Linked DNA regions of Homo sapiens: all the other regions are linked to region 2. Evidence: fine-mapped expression QTL. A gene starts in region 2. Each other region holds a variant in brackets. All regions are shown on one strand. Distances are from middle to middle.

The links. PIP is the estimated chance that this variant, and not a neighbour inherited with it, causes the effect.
Region 1: its variant is fine-mapped to the expression of C13orf42 in lung (TOPMed, PIP above 0.99). The same link has a PIP of 0.9 or more in subcutaneous fat.
Region 3: its variant is fine-mapped to the expression of C13orf42 in testis (GTEx, PIP above 0.99).

What each region holds. Positions count from the first base shown.
Region 1 is chr13:51,170,890-51,173,546 of GRCh38, reverse strand. It overlaps a transcript of C13orf42 not described here. Among named protein-coding and RNA genes, the nearest start is that of FAM124A, 50 kb to the left of the region's middle. RefSeq lists an enhancer at 2,483-2,657. The variant T/G (reference allele first, on the strand shown) is at 1,256.
Region 2 is chr13:51,109,510-51,112,320 of GRCh38, reverse strand. C13orf42 (chromosome 13 open reading frame 42) reads left to right here and starts at 1,047. Exons shown (of 4, transcript NM_001351589.3): 1 at 1,047-1,525. The coding sequence starts at 1,112. RefSeq lists an enhancer at 590-1,789.
Region 3 is chr13:51,158,141-51,160,951 of GRCh38, reverse strand. It overlaps a transcript of C13orf42 not described here. Among named protein-coding and RNA genes, the nearest start is that of C13orf42, 48 kb to the right of the region's middle. The variant G/C (reference allele first, on the strand shown) is at 1,396.

The DNA.
Region 1 (2,657 bases), 61 kb before region 2:
CTCTATAAGTATTAAAGCAGCGGCAGCCGCTGCACGCAGACATGAGGGCTAGGCTAAAACAGTAAGGTCAAGTTGTTTGGACAGAAAGGCTACAGGGTGTGGTCCTGGCTCTTGTGTAAGAATTCTGACCGCGCTAACCACGCCTAGGAAGGAAAGGAGTTGTTGTTTTATAGAAGGTGCTTGGGTTTGAGAGATCAGTCGGACGCGATTGGCAGGGAGAGCACGTGTGTTTTTATGAGAATTATGCCGAGATAGGTAACAGATGAGGAAGAAATTTGGGCTTGATTGAAGTAATGGGGGCTGTCTGAGAAGCTTTGCGGCAGTACAGCCTAGGTAATTTGCTGAGCTTGATGGGTGTCAGGGTCAGTCCAAGTGAAAGCAAAGAGAGGCTGGGATTAAGGGTGCAAAGGAATAGTAAAGAAAGCATGTTTGAGATCTAGAACAGAATAATGGGTTGTAGAGGCAGGTATTGAGGACAGGAGAGTATACGGGTTTGGCACCACGGGGTGGATAGGCAAAACAATTTGGTTGATAAGGTGCAGATCCTGAACTAACTTGTAAGGCTTGTCTGGTTTTAGGACAGGTAAAATGGGGGAATTGTAAGGAGAGTTTATAGGCTTTAAAAGGCCATGCTGTAGCAGGCGAGTGATAACAGGCTTTAATCTTTTTAAAGCGTGCTGCGGGATGGGATATTGGCGTTGAGTGGGGTAAGGGTGATTAGGTTTTAATGAGATGGTAAGGGGTGCATGATCGGTCGCCAAGGAGGGAGTAGAGGTATCTTATACTTGTGGGTTAAGGTGGGGGGATAGAAGAGGAGGACGCAAAGGAGGCTTTGAATTGGGAAGAAGGGCGGCAATGAGATATAGCTGTAGTCCAGGAATAGTCAGGGAAGCAGATAATTTAGTTAAAGTGTCTCGGCCTAATAAGGGAACTGGGCAGGTGGGGATGACTAAAAAGGAGTGCTTAAAAGAGTATTGTCTAAGTTGGCACCAGAGTTGGGGAGTTTTAAGAGGTTTGCCTGGCCGTCAATACCCACAACAGTTATGGAGGCAAGGGAAACAGGCCCTTGAAAAGAGGGTAATGTGGAGTGAGTAGCCTCCGTATTGATTAAGAAGGGGACGGGCTTACCTTCCACTGTGAGAGTTACCTGAAGCTCGGCGTCAGTGACTGTCTAGGGGGCTTCCGAGGTGATCCGGCAGTGTCAGTCTTCAGCCGCTAAGCCGAGAAGATCTGGGAAGGAGTCAGTCAGAGAGGC[T/G]TGGGCCAGAGTTCCAGGGGCTCTGGGAGTGGCTGCCAGGTGAGTTGAACAGTCCGATTTTCAGTGGGGTCCCACACAGATGGGACGCGGCTTAGGAGGAATCCCAGGCTGCGGGCATTCCTTGGCCCAGTGGCCAGATTTCTGGCACGTGTAGCAAGCTCCTGTGGGAGGAGGTTCTGGAGGAACGCCTGGCCGCTGCGGTTCAGGCGTTTGGAAGTTCTTGTGTGCTGGAGACGTGGCTGGGGTTTGTCTCACAGTGGAGGCAAGGAATTGCAACTTTTTTCTATTATGGTACACCTTGAAGGTGAGGTTAATTAAATCCTGTTGTGGGGTTTGAGGGCCAGAATTTAATTTTTGGAGTTTTATTTAATATCGGGAGCAGATTGGGTAATAAAATGTATATTGAGCATAAGACGGCCTTTTGACCTTTTAGGGTCTAGGGCTGTAAAGCGTCTCAGGGTTGCTGCCAAACAAGCCATGAACTGGGCTGGATTTTTATATTTGATGAAAAAGAGCCTAAACGCTATCTGATTTGGGGTAAAGAAAAAGGAGCATTAACCTTGACTATGCCTTTAGCTCCAGCCACCTTTTTAAGAGTAAATTGCTGGGCAGGTGGGGGAGGGCTAGTCACCGAACGAAACTGTAAGCCCGACCAGGTGTGAGGAGGGGAGGTGATAAAAAGATTATAGGGTGGAGGAGCAGAGGCTGAGGAAGAATTGGGACCTAGCTCGGCCTGGCCAGGAGCAGCCTGGGGAGGAAGGGAGAGGTCAGATGGGTCTGTAGAAAAGGAAGATTAGAAAGACTCAGCGACGCTTGGGGTTGGTACTGAGGGGACAGGCGGGAGGGAAAGAAGGAAGATTTGGGACGAGTTGCACTGGTCACAGAGACTAGGAAGGGACTGATGTGTAAAAGAATGCCTGGACGTCAGGCACCTCAGACCGTTTGCCTATTTTACGACAAGAATTATTTAGATTTTGCAGGATGGAAAAATTCAAAGTGCCATTTTCTGGCTATTTGGAACTACTGTCGAGTTTGTATTGGGGTCAAACGGCATTGCAGAAGAAAATAAGTCATTTAGGTTTTAGGTCAGGTGTGAGTTGAAGAGGTTTTAAGTTTTTGAGAACACAGGCTAAGGGAGGAGAAGGAGGAATGGAGGGTGGAAGCTTACCCATAGTGAAGGAGGCAAGCCCAGAGAAAAGAGACACGGAGAAGGGTTGGGGGGTTCTTGCCCTCCAGAAAAGCAGAGAAGGGGTTGGGGCACGGAAATAAGGGATGGGGGCACAGAGATAAGAGGTCAGGGTGCGGAAATAAGGGATTGGGGCACAGAGATAAGAGGTTGGGGTGTGGAAATAAGCAACTGGGGGCTTCTTGCCCCCTAGGAAAGCGGGACTTGCCACTAAGG
Region 2 (2,811 bases):
AATACATTCATTCAGTAATGCTTTACATACAATTTCTGGGGGCTCATACTTTCTCTTAGCTCATAGCTTAAGAAAATGCCTGACCTAGAGACTGGTGCAGGCTTGTACTCTCAGACTGTAGTCTAGGAGAGAAATAGACTGCATAGAAGAATGAACAAAATAACAATGTTTAGCATCTGCCTGAGAAAAATGCTACAGAGAACATCTCTGGAATTCTAATAGATTCCTACAGCCCTCTTGAAAAAACAGTTTATGTCTGATGTTAACTAGTCTAAGTTAAAAATGTGCTCGGGCTAAAGAAAGTGTCTGCCCCACAAATGTGGCCACCCTTCAGCTCACTGATGCTTCTGTGCAAAAAGTCGTGGTCCGGATATCTGAATCCTCCTCCTGCCTCCACAATGGGCTGCTATCCGGTAACGGCTGTGAGGTCCATTACCGCAGGGCGAGGCTCTTCCAGGACGCTCAGATGCCTGCTCAGAGCCCAGCTTATCGGGGGGATCTGCGAGCTCCTGTCAACGCCCTGGTGTGTCCACCCTGGCCCATCTCGGGGGACTAGATTTTACCCTGAGCAACACATGATTTTTGGGTAAGGGCTGTCCCTGCTAAGTAGAATTTCATTTTGGATTCAGAGAATTCAGAACCGGAGTCAGCTCAGCCCAGGTGGAAAGGTAAAAATTCACACCAAGATCAACTCAAACTGAGTGAGACCATGGCCAGCGATGGAAAGTGAAAAGGAAAGAAAATAACTGAGCAGGCAAAGCTCTGTCCCACTTTCTTCATCCAGCTGGGGCCTTCCACGGGAGAGCACTGAAGGTATTTGCACTCAATGCTTCATAAAGCCAGCCAGGGCACTCATTTTTAAGTTCACAGTGCGCCACCTTCTATCTTCGGGTTGTTTATGGCCTCTTGGTTATAGGATGTAAACATCCCCCATGGGAGATGTGCAGGTTACCCACCTGATCAAGCCGGTGCTCCCTGGGATCCTAGAGATCAGAGGCCTCCTGGAAGGCAGATGGTGCGAGGCCTGGATGTCGGCTTCTCTCCCCGCATCTAGATCAAGTGGCGGCAGCACAGGCAGCTGGAAGGTACCCACAGAAAGAAATCGAGCACTATGTTCAGAAAGATCCACTCCATCTTTAACTCCAGCCCACAGAGAAAGACGGCGGCCGAGAGCCCCTTCTACGAAGGAGCCAGCCCCGCAGTGAAGCTGATTCGAAGCAGTTCCATGTATGTGGTCGGGGACCACGGGGAGAAATTCAGCGAGTCCTTAAAGAAGTACAAAAGCACCAGTAGCATGGACACCAGCCTGTACTACCTGCGGCAGGAGGAGGACCGGGCGTGGATGTATTCGCGCACCCAGGACTGCCTGCAGTACCTGCAGGAGCTGCTGGCCTTGCGCAAAAAATATCTCAGCAGCTTCAGTGATCTGAAGCCCCACCGCACCCAGGGGATTTCCTCAACCTCCTCCAAATCCTCCAAGGGAGGGAAAAAGACTCCTGTCCGGTCTACTCCCAAAGAAATAAAGGTAAGTGCTGCTGAGCAGTACAATTTAGATGAGGGTTTTTCTGAGAGCCTTGGGCAACTGTTTGAAAGCTTCTTCCTACCTCTGCATGGCTTAATTAATCTGACACATTCTGAGCCGCGGCGCAATAGTCCTCAGATGCTTTATGCGGCCATATCCCCAGCCTGGGGAAGGGTGGCTAAGCCCATGTTTATTACTCATTTATTTATTATTAACTTTATTTTAGGTTCAGGGGTACACATGCAGGTTTGTTATATAGGTAAACTGTGTGTCACAAGGGTTTGGTGTACAGATTATTTTGTCACCCAGGTAATAAGCATAGTGCCTGATTGGTAGTTTCTTGATCCATGTTTATTTTTAATACCCAGGAAGCAAAAAGGAGCAGGTAGTGGTGTCCACAGAGCAGCTCGGTGGGGAAGACATGGGTTTTGGTGTCAGGCGGCACCATATTTGCATTGCACATCTATCAATTCCTTCCCAGTGTTATAGGTGAGATAATGCTTGCATGGCATTTGGATGACAGCAAATCATTTTTCAACAAATTGTTGGTTTTTAAAAAATTATTGTTGTCACATCTAAAAATCCTGGTGAAAAGTGAAATCATCACATGACTAGATGTTTTCAAATATTGAGGTGCTTAGCCCCACGCAAGCCAAACAACTGGAAAATTCCTCCATCTGTACCTCAGACCAGGCATGTGGTGGCTCAGGCATAGACACGGAGAGAGTCTGTGTCTCTTGGGAGATTCCCGGATGGCTTTGGGCACTGGAGGTCTCCAGACAGTCACAAGCATGAAATGAGTGAAAGAAATAATTTGCATTTATCTCTTTGTTTATGCTTATTGCAGTGTTTTGTATATACCAACTTTTCTTGAGCGTCACAATAAAGCCAGTACAGTAGGTGGGGAGGAACTCCTTCAGTATCACAGAAGGGAAAACCGAGGCTCAGTGACCCACCTCTAGGTGCTAGGTCACCTAATTTTAATTATGAGCCGGCAATTCATTCAGTTACTCTTTCCTTTATTTCCTCAGACTTGTATTTATTTAGAGACAGAGTCTCCTCTGTTGCTCAGGCTGGAGTGCAGTGGCATGATCATAGCTCACTGCAACCTCAACCTCCTGGACTCAAGTGATCCTGCCACCTCAGCTTCCCAAGTAGCTGGGACTACAGGCACCTGCCACCACACGCGGCTAATTAAAATTTTTTTTTTTTGTAGAGATGGGAGTCTTGCTTTGTTGCTCAGGCTGGTCTCAAACTCCTGACCTCAAGCAGTCCTCCCGCCTTGGTCT
Region 3 (2,811 bases), 49 kb before region 2:
CTTTGTAGGTTTTCTTTCTTTTTCTTACTATGCTGGCAGGATCTCCAATACAATGTTGGCTAGAGGTGCTGGTCACAGGTTTCCTTGCCCTGTTTTTTATTTCAGAAAGAATACTTTCAGTGATTGCCATTAGAAATAGCATTTGCTGTAGGATTTTAATAGATAATTTAAAAAATCAGGTTAAGGAATTTCCTTTATATTTCTAGTTTGCTAAGAGTTTTTAATCATTTATAGGTATTCCCACTTATTTTATACCTGCCACTTTGAGGGATGCTCTTCTCGTACCACTGAGAAATTGTCTACTTTCTAGTGCCTTATAGTCAAATTCACAATTCCTCATTTGTTTTCAATGAGGGAGGCTTGCTTCCTGGCTCATCTTTTGTGTACCATAAAGTATGTCAATATGCAGAAGCAAATCAAATTTATTTATTTATTTATTTTTGAGACGGAGTTTTGCTCTTGTTGCCCAAGCTGGAGTGCAATGGTGCAATCACGGCTCACTGCAACCTCCGTCTCCCAGGTTCATTGACTCTCCTGCCTCAGCCTCCCGAGTAGCTGGGATTACAGGCTTGCGCCACCATGCGCAGCTAATTATTTGTATTTTTAGTAGAAATGGGGTTTCACCATGTTTGCCAAGTCTCAAACTCCTGACCTCAGGTGATCTGCCTGCCTCGGCCTCCCAAAATGCTGGGATTCCAGGCGTGAGCCACCATTCTCGTCCCACAAATCAAATTTCTAAACATTGGCATTGTGTCACCCCACACTGTGTGACCCTTAATGTCAATACTGTCTGATATGGTTTGGCTGTGTCCCCACCCAAATCTCAACTTGAATTGTATCTCACATAAGTCCCACGTGTTGTGGGAGGGACCCAGGGGGAGGTAATTGAATCATGGGAGCCAGTGTTTCCCATGCTATTCTCGAGATAGTGAGTAAGTCTCACAAGATCTGATGGGTTTATCAGGGGTTTCTGCTTTTGCTCCTTCTCTCATTCTCTCTTGCTGCTGCCACGTAAGAAGTATCTTTCACCCTCCGCCATGATTGTGAGAGTTTCCCTAGCCATGTGGAACTGTAAGTCCAATTAAACCTCTTTTTGTTCCCAGTTTCAGTATGTCTTTATCAGCAGCGTCAAAATGAACTAATACACTGTCTTACATATGAGTTGCCAGAAACGAGACACTTCATGCTGTATAAAATGCATAAAAATGCAAAATATACATTGCATATTCGGAGTCAGCTGACTTAATGGAGCTTTATGGCGAGTGAGACTCCATGTCCTTCGGATCTATTTCTCTTTTATTGTATGTGAGAATTTTACTTGCATCACCAATTTCAATAACCCTGAGATCTCAGCACAGCAGTGGAATAACAATGACAGTGGCAACAGCCCAAAGA[G/C]AGAGATTGTTTTTTGAAAGTCAACGAAAATTCAACTCTAATCTATATATTTTCTATAATCTATGTTTTCCTGAAATGGAAAAGCCTGTCTCTCCCCATGGCTGGGGGAAGCATAAAAGCTCAGTGACTCAAGGAAAGGTTTCAGACTGCTCTTGATCAGCCTCTTTATTTTCTTGTCATTCTATCCCCCACACTGTTCCCTAGTCCTCATCCTGACATCTGTTTTTTTAATCACTGTCATTGAAAACAAGTGTGGTGCTGTCTGAAATCCACAAAAAGCAACCTCCGGGGAAGAAAATATAAATCATAGGTGTGTAAATCATCAGCCCTGAGAGTTGGCATACTGTTGACTTGCCTAAGAGTCTGCATTTTCATTTAGTGGGGAAAATCAGCTTTGATGCACATGATTGGTGGGGGTGGTGGGGAACATATGAAACACAATGACTCAGAACTGGCAAAAGTCTGCGTGTGGAGAGAGGGAGATTGGTGGATTCATTCTGGCATCTAATCAGTCCCTGAGAACTGTGAGGAAATTGAAAGGGGCCAGCTTATCAGCATATTGACATGCAATGAAAGCCCCTTAAATGCTTCCCAATCCCTATGCAGAAGAAGCGGAGAAGGAAAACCACTGTCATTGGAAAAAATTATTTGGCAGAACATTCTCTTTAACGAGCAGATTCATTCATTTTCTGGGAAACATACTAGCGTTTTGCCTCTATCACACTAAAAGAACTGGCTGGTGCAATCAGTTCCACAGAACACCCATCAATTCAGTTAAACAACCAGTGGGGTGGAAAACCCCCAGAAATCAATAGTAGTTGTTTCACTGAATTGATGGGTTACTGCGAGTCGTTCAGATCCATCGGTTGACTTGTGTGTTCAGTTGCTGCCTTGTCTGTGGTGTTGCGTGGGACCTTCAGGCCAGAGACAGACCCTGCTGGAAGGCCTACAAAGTGCAAGGTGACAGACAGAGAGGTACAGGCTCCCCATGGCCAGTGGGTGTCACTTCTGCTGGGAAGATCCTTGCTGCAATGTGCAGCCATCATTGCTACTGGCAGCTCACCTCTAGTGAGGGTGATGGTGAATAGTTTTAACAAGCCACCACTGGCTGAGTGCCTTTGATGAGGGAGGTGCTTTTAAAATATTATTACTTACATTTTAACAAACCAGCAAAGTAGAAATTATCCCTCCCTGCTCTTTTCTTGCTTGAGGATTGAAGAGAAGCAGGGAGAGGCATAGCCAGGAACCTGCCTCTGTTCATTGTCAAAGCCAGAGTTCTGTTCAGGATGTCATCCACCCCTCATCCATGCATAGCATAGTGGCTGAGAACTGTAGGTTCTGGAATCTGACAAAGATGGTTCAAATCCTGGCATCTCTACTTATTGTGGGATGTTTGGCAATTTACTTAACTGGTTT